2 separate regions of the Homo sapiens genome follow, and region 2 is linked to region 1. Evidence: fine-mapped expression QTL. Tissue or cell type: monocytes. Region 1 holds a variant in brackets; the other region holds the start of a gene. All regions are shown on one strand. Distances are between the middles of the regions.

The links. PIP is the estimated chance that this variant, and not a neighbour inherited with it, causes the effect.
Region 2: it holds the start of SLC4A7, and the variant in region 1 is fine-mapped to the expression of SLC4A7 in monocytes (TOPMed, PIP above 0.99).

What each region holds. Positions count from the first base shown.
Region 1 is chr3:27,557,166-27,565,368 of GRCh38, forward strand. No RefSeq gene overlaps it. Among named protein-coding and RNA genes, the nearest start is that of SLC4A7, 77 kb to the left of the region's middle. The variant T/C (reference allele first, on the strand shown) is at 3,622.
Region 2 is chr3:27,481,278-27,489,434 of GRCh38, forward strand. It overlaps SLC4A7 (solute carrier family 4 member 7), which reads right to left and starts at 3,107. Exons shown (of 26, transcript NM_001321103.2): 1 at 2,790-3,107. The coding sequence starts at 2,849. It also overlaps the pseudogene UBA52P4. RefSeq lists enhancers at 1,846-1,905, 2,066-2,275, 2,306-2,365, 2,381-3,157, 3,636-3,765 and silencers at 2,536-2,605, 2,636-2,995, 3,026-3,505.

The DNA of each region.
Region 1 (8,203 bases):
TCACAGTTTACAAAGTCTTCTTCCATATAATCCTCACAGCAGTTCCGAGCCGAAGTGACTTGCCATGGCTCACCTGTAGCTAAGTGGCACAGCTAGGATATAAACACAGGTTTTCTGAATCTGGCCTTCAGTTCTAACTGTGCACTGGACAGGGCATGTAATGGTAGCTGCTGAAACTAATGACATCCATGTTTCAGTGGTGGAACGCAGTAAAGTTGATTCCTCATTCTTGTCACAGCAATATGGGTTGATGGGGCTGGGGATTCTGCTCCATGTAGTCACGCAGAGACTCATGTTCTTTCTACCTGTGCATTAATATCTTCTACATGTGGCCTCCAAAGCTACTAGAGAATGGGAAATAGTGGGAGATCACACATGGGAGCTTTTTATGGGCCAGGCCTGGAAATGGCTCACATCACTTTTGCTCATGTCCTTTGGCCAAAACCCAATCTCAGCAAGGAAGGCCAAGATGTAATTCAACTGTTTTCCCAGATCCACAGCCTTGGGAAAGTAGAACTGAGAACTTTGTCTTTTAGTACTTTAGTTTATCAGGCCTCCGTGAAGTCCCTTCTGCTGAGGAGGCCATGCTGAGCAGTCTCTGGAAGTTTTTTATTTTCCTTCCCATGTGATCCTTTTGCTTCTCTGAGCTCCCAGAACTCCTCTTTCTTTATTCCTCCTACTTTTCAAACCTTTCTCAGAGGCTGTTTTAAGATATATAATGTTATCTTCTTATTTTCTGTAACTTTTCACTTGTGTATTTCTCCCTGACATGAAACATAAACTCTTTAAAAGCAGAATTGTATCTACTATTGCAATACTGTGAGATACATTTCCTCTAGTCACCTTAATCAACCCTCCACTTCATCCAAAGAAATTAAATTCTGCCAAAATTGATGGAGGCTTATTATGTACAAGGTGCTATGCTTGGTGCCATTGGAAGAAGCAAAGAGGAATTAGGAATGGGTCTTTAAAAGCTTGTAAAAAAAAAAGGCTATACGTGAAAGTACAATCAAGAATGTAGAAATACACTGATAAGAAAATATAGTTGGAAGAGGCTGATTCTGAATTGACGGAAAGGGGACTGGAAAAGTTTTCACTGAAGAAATTATAAACATGATAGAAGTAGCTAGCAGTTGTCGAACTTTTCCTATAAGCCAGGCACTGTATTGGAGTGTTTTATATATGTCACACCATGTCATTCTCATAACAATCTTATGAGAGGGCACTGTCATTGTTCCCATTAACCAAATAAGAACAAACATGGGGAGAATTTGCTATAAAGGACGTTTCTGGGTCAATTGGTGAGATGTCAATATGGACTGTAGATTAGATAGATAATCGTATTATTGTATGAATGCTAAATCTCTTGATTTTGATCATTATTTTCTGGTTATATAAGGAATGTCCTTGTTTTTTTTTTTTTTGAGAAGGAGTCTCGCTTTGTTGCCCAGGCTGGAGTGCAGTGGTGTGATCTTGGCTTACTGCAACCTCTGCCTCCCAGGTTCAAGCAATTCTCTGCCTCATCCTCCCAAGTAGCTGGGATTACAGGCGCTCGCCACCACGCCCAGCTAATTTTTGTAATTTTAGTAGAGACTGGGTTTCACCATCTTGGCCAGGCTGGTCTTGAACTCCTGACCTTGTGATCCACCTGCCTCAGCCTCCCAAAGTGCTGGGATTACAGGCATGAGCCATTGCACTTGGCCAGGAATGTCCTTGGTTTTTTTTTTTTTTTTTGGAGGTGGAGTTTCACTCCTGTTGCCCAGCAACCTCTGCCTCCCGGGTTCAAGCCATTCTCCTGCCTCAGCCTCCCGAGTAGCTGGGATTACAGGCATGTGCCACCATGTCCGGCTAATTTTGTATTTTTAGTAGAGACGGGGTTTCTCCATGTTGGTCAGGCTGGTCTTGAACTCCTGACCTCAGGTGATCTGCCTGCCTCGGCCTCCCAAAGTGCTGGCATTACAGGCGTGAGCCACCTTACCCAGCCGAATGTCCTTGTTAATAGGAAATTTACTCTGAAGTATTTAGGAATAAAGGGGCATGATGTCATAAATTTCCTCTCAAATACTTCAGAAAACTGTAATAATTAGATGTGTGTGCATTCATGTGTATGGAGAGAGAGAGAGAGAAGGAAAGAATGATAAAACAAATGCAGCAAAATGTTAACAATTGGTGACATATGGCAGGTTGGGCTGCTATAACAGAATACCACGGACTAGGTGGCTTACACAACAGAAGTCTATTTTTTTTATAGTTCTGGAGGATGGAGGTCCAAGATCAAGGTACAGCATGATCAGGTTCTAATAAGAACTCTCTTCCTGGCTTACAGATGGCTGTCTTCTTACTGTGTTCTCACATGGCAGGGGGGTAGCAAGTTCTCTGGTGCCTCTTCTTCTAAGGGCACTAATTCCATTATGAGACCCAACTCTCATGACCTCATCTAAACCAAATCACCTCCTAAAGGCACCAGGCTAAATACCATCACACTGAGGGTTGGGGCTTTAACATATGAATTGTGGGGAGACACCATTCAGTCCATAGCAGTGAGTGATGGGTATAGTGGAAATTTTGTACTATTTTTGCTACTTCCTGTAAGTTTAGAATTATTTAAAAATAAGAAGGTAAAAGAAAAAAGAAAAAACATTGGCATAAAGTGTTTTACCCAGGTCACGCAGCTGGTGAGTGGTAGGAAATGGTCTTTTCCTATGTTCTTTAGAACCCACTCTCTTAGATGCTGCACGGACACAGATGCTTTGTGACTTCTCATATCCTCTGGCATGGTCCACCTCCTCAATCATACCGCAGCTGAGGACAAACTAGGCCCTCCCCCTTGGCTAGTGCTCTGCAGCTGGATCAAGCAGACGCTCTTCCAGAATGTCTGGCTTCTCCCACTGCTTCCGGATTTGGATGAAATGCTGTGCTGCAGGGCATAGGATCAGATAGGCAAAAGGAAAGAATGATGCAAGCAGGAATGCAAGGTAGTTTCTGCCTGCAGAGCAAACTTTCGCCAATTAGGGCCGTGTGCAGTGGCTCATGCCTGTTATTCCAGCACTTTGGGAGGCCAAGGTGGGCGGATCACCTGAGGTCAGAAGTTCCAGACCAGACTGGCCAACGTGGCTCTACTAAAAATACAAAAATTAGCTGGGCGTAGTGGTGGGCGCCTGTAATCCCAGCTACTCCGGAGGCTGAGGCAGGAGAATTGTTTGAACTCTGGGAGGCAGAGGTTGCAGTGATCCGAGATCGCGCCATTACACTCCAGCCTGGGTGACAAGGTGAGACTCTGTCTCAAATAAAACAAAACAAAACCGCAACAACAAAAAACACACTTTGGCCAACTGGAAGCGGGAGACAGGGTTTCGTCTACCTTCCTCTCTTCCACGGACAACCTCAATGTGAGAGAAGTTCTGTGTGCTGAGCACGCACCCGCACAACAGAGTAAAACATTACTTTATATTGCAATTTTATATTATTATTGCACTTTATATATTACCTTAATATAGTATTATAATATTATAATTATATAACATTAATATATATTAATATATAATATATACATTATATTATTGCACTTTATATTGCACTTTATATATTACTTTATATTGTGCAATATATTACTTTATATTG[T/C]ACAACAGAGTAAAACATTACTTTATATTGCTCCACATCTTTTCTTGCCCCACTTCCCCTTTTCCCCATCCCAGCTGCTGTGGGTTTGCACTTCTCAAAGGAAGCATTAGCACTTTAATCCCTGCCTTGGGCTCTGTTTTCTAGAGTACTAGGGCTAATTAGAGAAAAAAAAAAAAAAAAAAAAAAAGGGCCGGGCACGGTGGCTCCTGCCTGTAATCCCAGCACTTTGGGAGGCCGAGGGGAGGCGGGCGGATCACGAGGTCAGGAGATCGAGACCATCCTCGCTAACATGGTGAAACACCATCTCTACCAAAAACACAAAAAATTAGCCGGGCGTGGTGGCAGGCGCCTGTAGTCCCAGCTATTCAGGAGGCTGAGGCAGGAGAATGGCGTGAACCTGGGAGGCGGAGCTTGCAGTGAGCTGAGATTGGGCCACTGCACTCCAGCCTGGGTGACAGAGCAAGACTCTGTCTCAAAAAAAAAAAAAAAAAAAAAAAAGGCCGAGCACGGAGGCTCACGCCTGTAATCCCAGCGCTTTGGGAGGCCGAGGTAGATGGATCACCAGGTCAGGAGATCGAGACCATCATGGCCAACATGGTGAAACCCCGTCTCTACTAAAAATATGAAAATTAGCCGGATGTTGTGGTGCGTGCCTGTAGTCCCACATATTCAGGAGGCTGAGGTACGAGAATCAGTTGAACCCAGGAGGCGGAGGTTGCAGTGAGAATTGCACTCCAGCCTGATGACAGAGTGAGACACTCCGTCTCAAAAAAAAAAAAAAAGAAAAGACTATGCTGTACTGCCCCTAATTTGAGCTGAGTCCTAAAGACAGGTAATATTTTGACAGCCAGAAATTTGAGAGAAAGGCAATACAAAAAGAAGGAATGGCTTTATTTATTTTTGAGACAGCATCTCGCTTTGTCATCCAGGCTGGAGTACAGTGGCATGATCATGGCTCATCACAGCCTCACACTCCTGAGCTTAAGCAATCCTCCCACTTCAGCCTCTTGAGTAGCTGGGACTACAAGCGGGTGCCACCATGCCCAGATGATTTTTTAATTTTTAAAATTTTTTTGTAGAGACAAAATTTGCTATGTTGCCTAGACTGGTCTCGAACTCCTGGCCTCAAGAGAGCTTCCTGCCTTGGCCTTCCAAAATGCTGGGATAACAGGCATGAGCCACAGCCAGGCCAAGAAATAGGAGTGGTCTTAGGTAAAGCATGAGGGATAACAGTAAATGGCTTGCTGAGGCTGTAGTATGGGGCAGGCGGGTGGTAATGGGATACAGGGAATGAATTGAGATGCAATAAGGTTGGGCACGGTGGCTCATGCCTGTAATCCCAGCACTTTGAGAGGCCAAGGCGGGAGGATCACCTGAGGTTGGGAGTTCAAGACAAGTCTGACCAACATGGTGAAACCTCGTCTCTACTAAAAAAATTAGCCGGTTTAGTGGTGAGCGCCTGTAATCCCAGCTACTCAGGAGGCTGAGGCAGGAGAACAGCTTGAACCCAGGAGGCGGAGGTTGTAGTGAGCCAAGATCGCACCATTGCACTCCAGCCTGGGCAACAGAGCAAGACTCTGTCACACACACACACACACACACACACACACACACACACAGATGCATTAAAAGATGATTGGCTTAAATGCCTGCTGTAGAGTTCAGACAACATTCTGTGGGCATTAGTGAGCCATGAGGACTTTTTGAGGTAGGATGAATAAAATAATAATAAGAATGGTGATGACAATAAGTATGAGGATGATAATAGTAGCATTACTAATGAAAACTAATGTTTATTAAATACTTATTAATACTATTTGCTCATCTTTGTACTAAGCATTTTTCATAAATTACTTCCTTTTATTCTATCAATAATCCTATGACATGGGTACTGTTATTATTCCCTAAAGCTTAGAATGGTTAATAAACTTGGTCAACGTTACACGGATTTTGAACCCTAGAATGCCACGCACTTTGCCACCAGAGCTAGTTTTAGGAACATAATTTTGGGAAAAGTGTGAAAGCTAAAGACATTAGAAGTAGGGCTGCTCATAGTCAAAGATTTTTCCAGCTTTTTTTTTTTTTTTAAATAAAAGATAGAAAGAAATGCGAAACACAACTTTCCTTGTCCATATTTATTTTATTTATTTATTTATTTATTTTCTTGAGACAGTGAGGCATGATCTCAGCTCACTGCAACCTCCACCTCCTGAGTTCAAGCAATTCTCCTGCCTCAGCTTCCCGAGTAGCTGGGATTACAGGCATGCGCCACCATGCCCAGCTAATTTTTGTATTTTTAGTAGACACGGGGTTTCACCATGTTGACCAGACTGGTCTCGAACTCCTGGCCTCAGATGATCCACCTGCCTTGGCCTCCCAAAGTGCTGGGATTACAGGCGTGAGCCACCACGCAGGGCATATTTTCTCCCTCTTTTGTTTTACTTCAGCCACATTGGACCCCTAGCTGTTCCATAAACACCTCAGGCTCACCCTCACCTGAGGGCCTTTGTACTTGGTGCTCCACATATCTGGAAATCCTCACCCCTCCCCTAACCACACCTAGCACTTCCTAGCTTCCTTCCCTGTTTCATAGTAATCCTTGGGTTGCTATAACAAAATACTACAGACTGAGTGGCTTAGCAACAACAGAAATTTACTTGTTACAGTTCCAGAGGCTGGAAAATCCAACATCAAGGCTCCCGCAGATTAGAAATCTGTGGAGGGCCTGCTTCAGGTTCTTAGACAGCAGCTGTCTTCTTACTGTATCCTCAGATGGTGGAAGAGGCAAGGAAGCTCCCTGGTGTTCCTTTATATGGACAGAAATGTCATTCATGAGAGCTCTGCCATTATGTCCTAATCACCTCCCCAAAGACCCTACCTCTTAATACCATCACCTTGGGGGTTGGATTTCAACATATGAATTTGTTGGGACGGGGGGCAGCAAAAACATACGCACCATAACAGTCACTGTCTAACATACTGTGTCTTCTAACCAGCTCTTCTGTTTAGGATCTGTGTGCCTCCACCAGTAGAATGTAAGCTCTACTGTGTTCACTGTTGGGATGCTTTAGCATTCAAAACAATATCTGCCATATGGTAAAATTCAGTACAGTAAGTGGTTGTCAAGTTAATTAATTAACTTTTGGGGGTGATTGTTCTGCAAGGCACTTTGCTATTGCATTAGCTCAGGATGAAAAAGATAGGAGGTCTTGGAAGCCCAGGCCTCTGTGGGTCTCCCTGTAAAACAGCAAAGGGTTTAGTTACATTACTAATTTTTTTTTTTGAGACGGAGTCTCATTCTGTTGCTCAGGCTGGAGTGCAGTGGTTTGATCTCGGCTCACTTCAACCTCCAACTCCCAGGTTCAAGCGATTCTCCTGCCTCAGCCTCCCAAGTAGCTGGGATTACAGGCGTGTACCACGATGCCCGGCTAATTTTTGTATTTTTAGTAGAGACAGGGTTTCACCATGTTGGCCAGGCTGCTCTCGAACTCCTGACCTCAGGTGATCCACCTGCCTTGGCTTCCCAAAGCGCTGGGATTACAGGCGTGAGCCATGGTGCCTGGCCTAGATAAATTACTTTTGTGATGCATAGGTCAGACCATTCTTCAGGACTGAAGGTCTTATTTCCTCAGCTGACAGCCTTTTTGGGAGATTATCTCAGCTGAAGAGAGGTGCCTCGTCAATTGTCACAATTTTGTCTCAGGGCAGCCCAAATCCAGTGACTGATGTGTGTAAATTTTAGAGGCCCTGACCTCTTGCCTCGGTGTAGGACAATTCTGAAGTGTCCCCCATCTTTAGAACTCCCGTGGGGTTGGCTGTGGCCTTCATCATGTCTGTGTGGTAGCTCCACTTCTTCCTGTGCCCAATTTTGCTTCATTTTCTTTCCTTCCACAGGTGTGGATGGCAAATGCACTCCCCCATACACTTCCTGCACACTAACTCCATCTCAGAGGCTGCTTCCCAGGGAACCCTACCTGGGATAACTCCCCAAATCAAGATGCTTCTCTATTTCTGATGTTTAGACTCACAAAGACTGACTCTTTGTCATAAGAGGGAAAAACAGACTGCCTCCTGGAAAAGTCAATTAGCTTAATAAAGGCCAAGAGGTAATATACCTCGGAACTCTCAAAATCAATGGCACGCCATTACTGAGGAAATACAAAACATATCCAAGCAGTTCTAAAGAAAGGGATTGTTATCTTTGGGGTTTTGGGAATTTTAGTGTCATGTCCAGATAACATATACTCTTTTAACTGGGGCCTCCTGAAGATAGCTCATGCCCTTTTATGAGAATGCTGGGAAGACCATAGTCTTCTCTGTACCTTGGCATCTAAAAATAATCAGAGTTAATGGAGTCTAACTTTCGGGAAGCCTGAGGCAGGGAGGGGTAAAGTGAAGCAGTTACAGGTTTTTACACATACTTCTGTGTTATTTCAACATTTCGGGAGAAAATATTTAGGTTTACTTTTCCAAGTCAAATCAACAAAAAATTTAAAGACTAAAATAAAATACATGTTTTCTGAACATCATTGAATCTGGGGACACAGGAGTCCACTCCCTGGCAGTGTGCCTGGTGTTGCCA
Region 2 (8,157 bases), 76 kb before region 1:
CTATCCCAACACCCTGATCAGTGAAAATTAGAGAATTTTAGGAGCAGAAGCAACCATAGAGGCTAAACTATGAAACAGATGGGCTCCAATTTCAGAGTAATATAAACTGCCACCAATCTATTCAACATTTTTTTGCATAATTACAAATCTAAGATGGGATTTTATGAATATTAATTTGTTCTACTTTTTTGGCTATGCTGAGCAGTCTGCTGCGAGTTAGAGTTATGACTGATGAATATCATGATCTCTCACTTTTACGACTTTTATTTACCAAAACTGGGTGAGCGAAGATTTAATTTTATCAACGCCAATAGTTCCTCTTTCCTGTTTTCAAATCAGTTCAACCTACAGCTTTACTATTCTCCCATTCTATTCGTAGACTATATGCTAGTTTACTGTATTTGATTTCTATTATTGATTTATATATGTTAACAGTAGCCAAGCCTTATCTTCTCAAAGACTTAGGAGGTTTACCCTTCTAAAGTGCTCCCCTACCACGTCATTAACAGCAGTGTTTAATAATTCCTTTGTCATCTGTCTCCCAACTCAAATATCACTTCTATTAGGATAGAGTTGGGTAGGGTGCCATGGCTTACACCTGTAATCCCAGCACTCTGTGAGGCCGAGGTGGGTGGATCACCTGAGGTCAGGAGTTCGAGACCAGCCTAACCAACAGTGAAATCCCATCTCTACTAAAAATACAAAATTAGCCGAGTATGGTGGCACATGCCTGTAATCCCAGCTACTCGGGAGGCTGAGGCCGAAGAATCACTTGAACCCAGGAGGCAGAGGTTGCAGTGAGGCGAGATCAGGCCATTGCGCTCCAGCCTGGGTGACAGAGCGAAACTCCGTCTCAAAAATAAATAAATAAATATTAGGATGGAGTTGGTTCTGCCTTGTTGGCCACTACAGTAAATAGTGTAAATAATAGTTTAAATAGCATAAACACTAGTCTAAATAAGTGTTATTACAATGAATGAATGAATAACTTGGAGGGCAATGGCCTTATCACATGCTTTCTCTACTAGCTAGGCAGGCAATATTTGAGAACACACCATAGTTTCTATCCAGCTCCGTGAAAACTCGAATGCACTTTACTGCTCAATTGAAAATTTGCAAATAAATTTAAGAACAGACAACATCATACTTGAAATACACAGAGAAAGTACTATAAAACAGTTTATTCAAAGGCTACACAAAGAATTACAGAAGGCCAGGCGCGGTGGCTCACGCCTGTAATCCTAGCACTTTGGGAGGCCGAGGCGGGTGGATTGCCTGAGGTCAGGAGTTCCAGACCAGCCTGGACAACATGGCAAAACCCCGTCTCTACTAAAAATACAAAAAATTAGCTGGGCATAGTGGTGCGTGCCTGTAATTCCTGCTACTCCGGAGGCTGAGGCGGGAGAATCGGTTGAACCTGGGAGGAGGAGGTTGCAGTGAGCCGAGATCGCACCACTGCATTCCAGCCTGGGCGACAGAGCGAGACTCTGTCTCAAAATAATAATAATAATAATTACAGATTATTTAGGATGAGTTTCCAGTATTCCATTACCATCACTGTGAATTATCTTCCAATAACCACTGCTAAATGACTTCACTGTCTGGTGACTGAGTTTTCTTCTATGTTAGAGAACTTATATGAACGTACTGAACTAATGAATGACTACTTTCCATAACCTTAACTATAATCCTAAAAGTTAAAAGGGAAAGCCGGCAGGCAGTTTTAAAGACAACTCTTGAATAAAAACATAGGAGAAGTAATTTTCCTCTTAGTTGTGAAAGACCGGACAATTTTCCCTGCAACCTTCCCGCCTTTGCTGGTTGCATAGTAAAAATTAGAAGTAGGAAAATTTAGAATACTTCCATCTCCTTTGAGTCACGAACTTGGAAAGGAGAAAGAGACAACTGCGGGGACGCATGTGCTCTAAAGAAAGCAGGAAGTCCGCTTCTTGAGCATGGGCCGTTCACCCATCATCACAAATGGGAACACCGGCCTTAAGTCCATCCCCATTCTCTTCTAACCCTGAAATCAAAGCCAGTCTCAGTAGGAAACGCGATCTTGCTAGCTGAGTTAGAGAAGGAGCACCAGACAGCTCAGGACACCCTCCTCCTTCTACTTGGCCTGCGGCAGGAGGATACTCCCCGGGTCCCAGCCAGTGGAGAAGGCGGACCCGGCAGGCAACAGCGAAAGAGCCTTGGCCGGGAAGGAGCGCGGCCAGTCCACGCGGCCGGAGAACTCACCGAACAAAGCGCACCGCGGAGCGGGAGGGGACACTCGGAAAGAGGGGGAAAGATTCAACCAGCTCTTCACCACTGCCTGGGGCTAGAGACAGGTGGAGCCGCCGTCCTCCTTAGAAGGAGAAGAAAGATAGGTTTTCGAGGGCTAATCTGAAACTCCTGCGCCAAGGCAACCGGAACCGGGACCCCGCCTGGGGAGCGCGCTAAGAAACAGGGGAGGCGAGCGCTGAGGGAAGGGATGGATGGTCGGGGTCACAGGCGGCCTCTGCGGGGATGTCGGGGTCCCGCCTGAGCCGCGCAGAGGATGCCCGCGGCGCGCCGCCGGCCGCCCCGACTCGGGCCTCCCGAGCGCAGCCGCTGGCCCCCTCCCACCCGCGCCCCAGGCCGCCACACAAAGGGGATGGCGAGGCGCGCCGGCCGCCGGGAGGTGGAGGGGCGACGGGCCTGGGACGAGGTGGCCGAGCCGCGACGCCCGCCGCGCCCCCCGCCTTTGTCTGCCTCGCCCCGCGCCCTCCCCCTGCGGAGGAGCCCCACCGCCGCGGCGCCCTCACCCTGCTCGTTACCCGGGTGAGTAGCGGTCTCATCTGCTCGCCGGCCCCATCAGCCTCCATGGCCGGCCGGCCAGCCCGTGACGGCCGCTACGGTACTGCCCCGCGCGGTCTGCCTGCTTCTGCCGCTGCCCCTGCCGCCGCCGCCGAGCCCCCGGCGCGCGAGGACAAACGTGGGTGCGTCCGTGCGCGAGGTGTGCGCGCGTGGGGAGAGCCGGGCGCCGGGCGCGGGAGACGCGGGGCGTGCGTGTGCGCGCTGCGACTGCTGGGCTGGCTTTAGTAGGAGAGCGAGGCCGCGGCGTGGAACCTGAAGCTAGAACTGAGCGAACCGGCGGACCGAGCGGGAAGGAGGAGAGCCGCGTAGGAGGAGGGGTTCGGGGGCGGAGCCGCAAACCGTGACGAGCCCGGCGCCGGGGCCAGGCAAGACACGCCCCCCCGCCCCGCCTCCTCGGGTCACGCCCCCTGCCAGTCTGGCACCGCCAGCCTCCTCAGCGCGCCCGCGGGCCGCGCCGCTAGGCCACCGGGAGATGGGGCGGGAGGGAGGCGGGACGGACATTTGTCCCAGCCAATCGGCGGCTGGCGGACTTCCGCTCGCCTCCCCCGTGCCACCTCCTCAGGACGCACCGCCCCTCTTTGTATAAGCTTAATTGACCGAAGCTGAGCGTCTAACTAGTTTTTCAAGTCGGAAGCTCCCCTGACGTTCTCAATGGGGTGGGGGGTCACCACCTCCCTTGGCTCCTAACTACATTCTTTAGAGGCTGCAGGGAAGGAGGACGCCACCTCTGTCAAGGACGCCCAGGATAACCCTCCGAAGCAACTAACGAGTCTTCACGACTCCTGGAAGTTTCTTTTCTGTCAATCCAGTAGGCACGAACCCCAACTCAGGGACCGTGAAAGATGGGGTACACTTGACCAGGTGTCCTCCTGTGCTTGCTCGCCCACTGAGCACCACGACAGCTGCCACTTTTTTTTTTTTTTTTTTTTTTTTTGAGACAGAGTCTTGCACCAGCCCAGGTTGGAGTGCAATGGCATGATCTCGGCTCACTGCAACCTCCGCTGCCTGGGTTCAAGCTATTCTCCTGCCTCAGCCTCCTGAGTAGCTGGGACTACAGACGCGCGCCACCACGCCCGGCAACTTTTTGTATTTTTAGTAGAGACGGGGTTTCACCATGTTGGTTAGGCTGGTCTCGAACTCCTGAGCTAAGGTGATCCACCAGCCTCAGCCTCCCAAAGTGCTGGGATTACAGGCATGAGCCACCACACCCGGCCAGCTGCCACATTATTGAGTCCACCCTGTAGGCCGTCTCTCAAATATCCCTTCTGTAACGGGATGATTGTAATACCTGCCATGCAGGCTCATTGAAGGATTAAGGGGATTTATATTCATAAAAGTGCCTGGCACATAGCATGCTGATAATTTTCATTATTGTTAACAGGTTTCTCTTGAGTGTTTCATAAAGATGAGAAATTTGGCCGGGCGCGGTGGCTTACGCCTGTAATTACAGCAGTTTGGGAGGCCGAGGCGGGCGGATCACCTGAGATCAGGAGTTCGAGACCAGCCTGACCAACATGACGAAACCCCGTGTCTACTAAAAATACAAAAATTAGCCAGGCATGGTGGCAGGCACCTGTAATCCCAGCTACTCAGGAGGCTGAGGCAGGAGAATCGCTTGAACCCAGGAGGCAGAGGTTGCAGTGAGCTGAGATCACGCCACTGCACTCCAGCCTGGGTGACAGAGCTAGACCCTGTCTCAAAAAAATAAAAAATAAAATAAAAAAAGATAAGGAGAGGTTTAGTTGGGAAGAACTGAAGCCATGCAATGGAAGGATATATAAATACATCAGCGGATCCAGAGCTCACATCCTATTCATCTCCAACTGGGTATTAGTAAAGCTTTTTGTCAGCAATAGGTAGCTAGGTATGCTGGATGACTCATTCCTTCTTTGGGCCCTAGTCCCCTTTTGTCCTAAATTTCCCAGAGAGTTACTTCCAGTCCAGCACACATTGTTCACTTACTTGTACAAGAGCAGATGTGCCTCTATTAATAGCTACTATGTAAAGAGGCCTACAATTAGAGACTGTGACATTTGGCAAACATATTTCATTTCTAATCCTCTCAATACTGCAAAATATCTGCCGTCATCTTTTTCTTCGGCAAGGCAACTGAGCTGCAGACGCAGAGACGCAGATCTTTGTGAAGACCCTCACGGGCAAGACCATCACTCTTGACGTCAAGCCAAGTGACACCATTGAGAATGTCAAAGCCAAAATTCAAGACAAGGAGGTATCCCACCTGACCAGCAGCATCTGATACTTGCTGGCAAACAGCTGGAGGATGGCCGAACTCTCTCAGACTGCAACATCTGGAAAGAGTCCACCCTGCACCTGGTGCTGCGCCTGTAAGGTGGCATTATTGAGCCTTCCCTCTGCCAGCTCTCCCAGAAATACAACTGTGACAAGATGATCTGCCGCAAGTGCTATGCTTGCCTGCACCCCCGTGCTGTCAACTGCTGCAAGAGGTGTGACCACACCAACAACCTGTAACCCAAGAAGGTCAAGGCTCTTCCTTCCTCGAACGGCAGCCTCCCTGGAGCCTCAATAAAGTGTGTCTCTTTCGTTGACTGGAGCAGCAAAAACAAACAAACAAAAAAACAATACTACAAAATATGTTATAGCTCCATTTTACAGATGAGGAAGCTGAAGCCCATAGAAATACTGGTTTTGAGTTCTGGTGAGTGGAACTGCTCTTACTATTGGCACCATTCTTTTTTATTTATTTATTTTTGAGATGGAGTCTCACTCTGTTGCCCAGGCTGGAGTACAGTGGCACAATCTCGGCTCACTGCAACCTCCATCCTCCAGGTTCAAGCAATTCTCCTGCCTCAGCCTCCAGAGTAGCTGGGATTACAGGCGCCCGCCACCACACCTAGCTAATTTTTTGTATTTTTAGTAGAGATGGGGTTTCACCATGTTGGCCAGGCTGGTCTAGAACTCCTGACCTCCAGTGATCCACCTGCCTCGGCCTCCCAAAGTGCTGAGATTACAGGTGTGAGCCACCGCATCTGGCTATAACATTCTATATATTTTATGATTTATTATGCTTATTGTCTACACACACACACACACACACACACGCACAAATGTGAGCTCCATGTAAGCTTCATGTGTACAGCAAATTTGGTTTTTGGTTTTTGGTTTTTTCTCAGATATCCCTATGCCTACGTGAGTGTTTGGCCCCTGTAAACTCTCAGCACATGTGTTAAATGAGTAAATGTACAGGTGGGGCATACATCTGCTCTTCTTAAGATCTAAGAGCATCTTAGGTGACAGCTGAGCATGTGGCCATAGTAACAAGAACAAAGTAGGAGTCAAGAATCATGGTGCCAGAGTTGAAAGTGTTAAATAGTCAGCTTCAAGAAGGTCTTAAAAATGTATGCTTGGCAGACCTTGCTAAACAATGAATTTCTGTTCATCTATCTTGCAAGAAGAAAAAATTATTGGTTTATTTAATCCACAAATATTTTTTTAGTGACGTCTTTGTTGCCATGCACTTTTTCCACTCCTCATTTCATCCCAACTGCTAGAAGAGGAATGTAGCAAAGATCTGAATTATTAAATTTATCACTCAGTTGCCCACTTAATTCAACCTCAGCCAAAGTTCATTCAAGAAGATAATGTGTTAAAATTGCTTTTGTGCAACCAGAGATGGCTATAAAGTGTTCCAAGGTGCTGAAAGGTAAATTGTATTCTTGAATATTTTAAATATTCATCTGGGGCCAGGTGCAGTGGCTCATGCTTGTAATCCCAACACTTTGGGAGGCCAAGGCAAGTGGATCACCTGAGGTCAGGAGTTTGAGACCAGCCTGGCCAACACGGTGAAACCCTATATCTACTAAAAATACAAAAATTAGCTGGGCATGGTGGCAGGCACCTATAGTCACAGCTACTCAGGAGGCTGAGACAGGAGAATTGTTTGAACCCCGGAGGCCAAGGTTGCAGTGAGCCAAGATCACGCCATTGCACCCCAGCCTGGGGCACAGGTCCAGACTCCGTTTCAAAAAAAAAAAATTAATTTGAAATATGGCACAGGGAAACATTTGCTAAACAAAGGTAAATGTAAACCTAAATTCATCAGTAGCAATGAAGTGGTAGTACCTAAAGTTAATGAGTTTTAGCTGTATCCTAAATTCAGAATACTTCCTGAGTATCTGGAGCAGTAGATAATCCTAAAAACCCCTTGGCAAGATCCCCATCCTGAGGAGTGAACGGTCTTCCCAAGAACAATTCTCTATAGGCCAAGGTATAGTTTATAAAGACAGAGAGCAGCTTCTTTGGTATTTTGAAAAGTGTGAAACCATTCTTTTTTTTTTTTTTTTGAGGCGGAGTTTCACTCTTGCTGTCCAGGCTGGAGTGCAATGGTGCAATCTCGGCTCACTGCAACCTCTGCCTCCCTGGTTCAAGCAATCCTCCTGCCTCAACCTCCCAAGTAGCTAGGATTACAGGCACGTACCACCATGCCTGGCTAATTTTGTATTTTTTAGTAGAGACGGGGTTTCTCCATGTTGGTCAGGCTGGTCTCAAACTCCTGACAACATCAGGTGATCTGCCCACCTCAGCCTCCCAAAGTGCTGGGATTACAGGTGTGAGCCACCGCACCTGGCCACGTGAAACCATTCTTAACTTTTAGCAGAGGGTTCTTTGGCAATTATATGTATCTTCATTGCCTCTTCTTGGTTATAGCTAATATTTAAAGGTTTTCTATCATCTGATCCTATAAGGAAAAGTAAAATCATTGGAATAGTGTTTTCAAGAGTACCAGAACAGCCTCAACGGGACAAAGACACAAGGAAAATTACTTCATTGTTCTTTATTTCTATAGGCTAGGCATACAGATAAATATTCAAAAGATGAGGAAATAAAAACAAAAACAGAACTTGTCCCTGATCTCATGGAGTTCAGAGTGCAAAACACCAATATATAAACAACTGTCAACAATGCAATGCATGTAGTTCTGAGTCCACCACGCTCAGCCAAAAGCCTCCTTTTAGAAGATGTTTTAGGGATAATAGTGGTACCCTCCTCAAGGGAATTGCAATAAATATTAAATGAGGGCATCAAATATAGCACCTACATGCAAGAAACACTCAATAAATGCTTATAATTATTATCTGATTGGGAAACCACAAGGTGGGAGAAAGGTGGGCTCAGGTTCATGTAAAGGGAAAGGCCTTGTATACCGGGCCCCTGAGGAATTTATATTCTCATTAGAGTGAAAACTCCTCAAGTGCGGGATGTTCCTTGTCACTGGGAACATCCCAGAGTGCCTGGCACATAGTGGGCATCAAAAATATGTTGAATGAATAAGTGCTA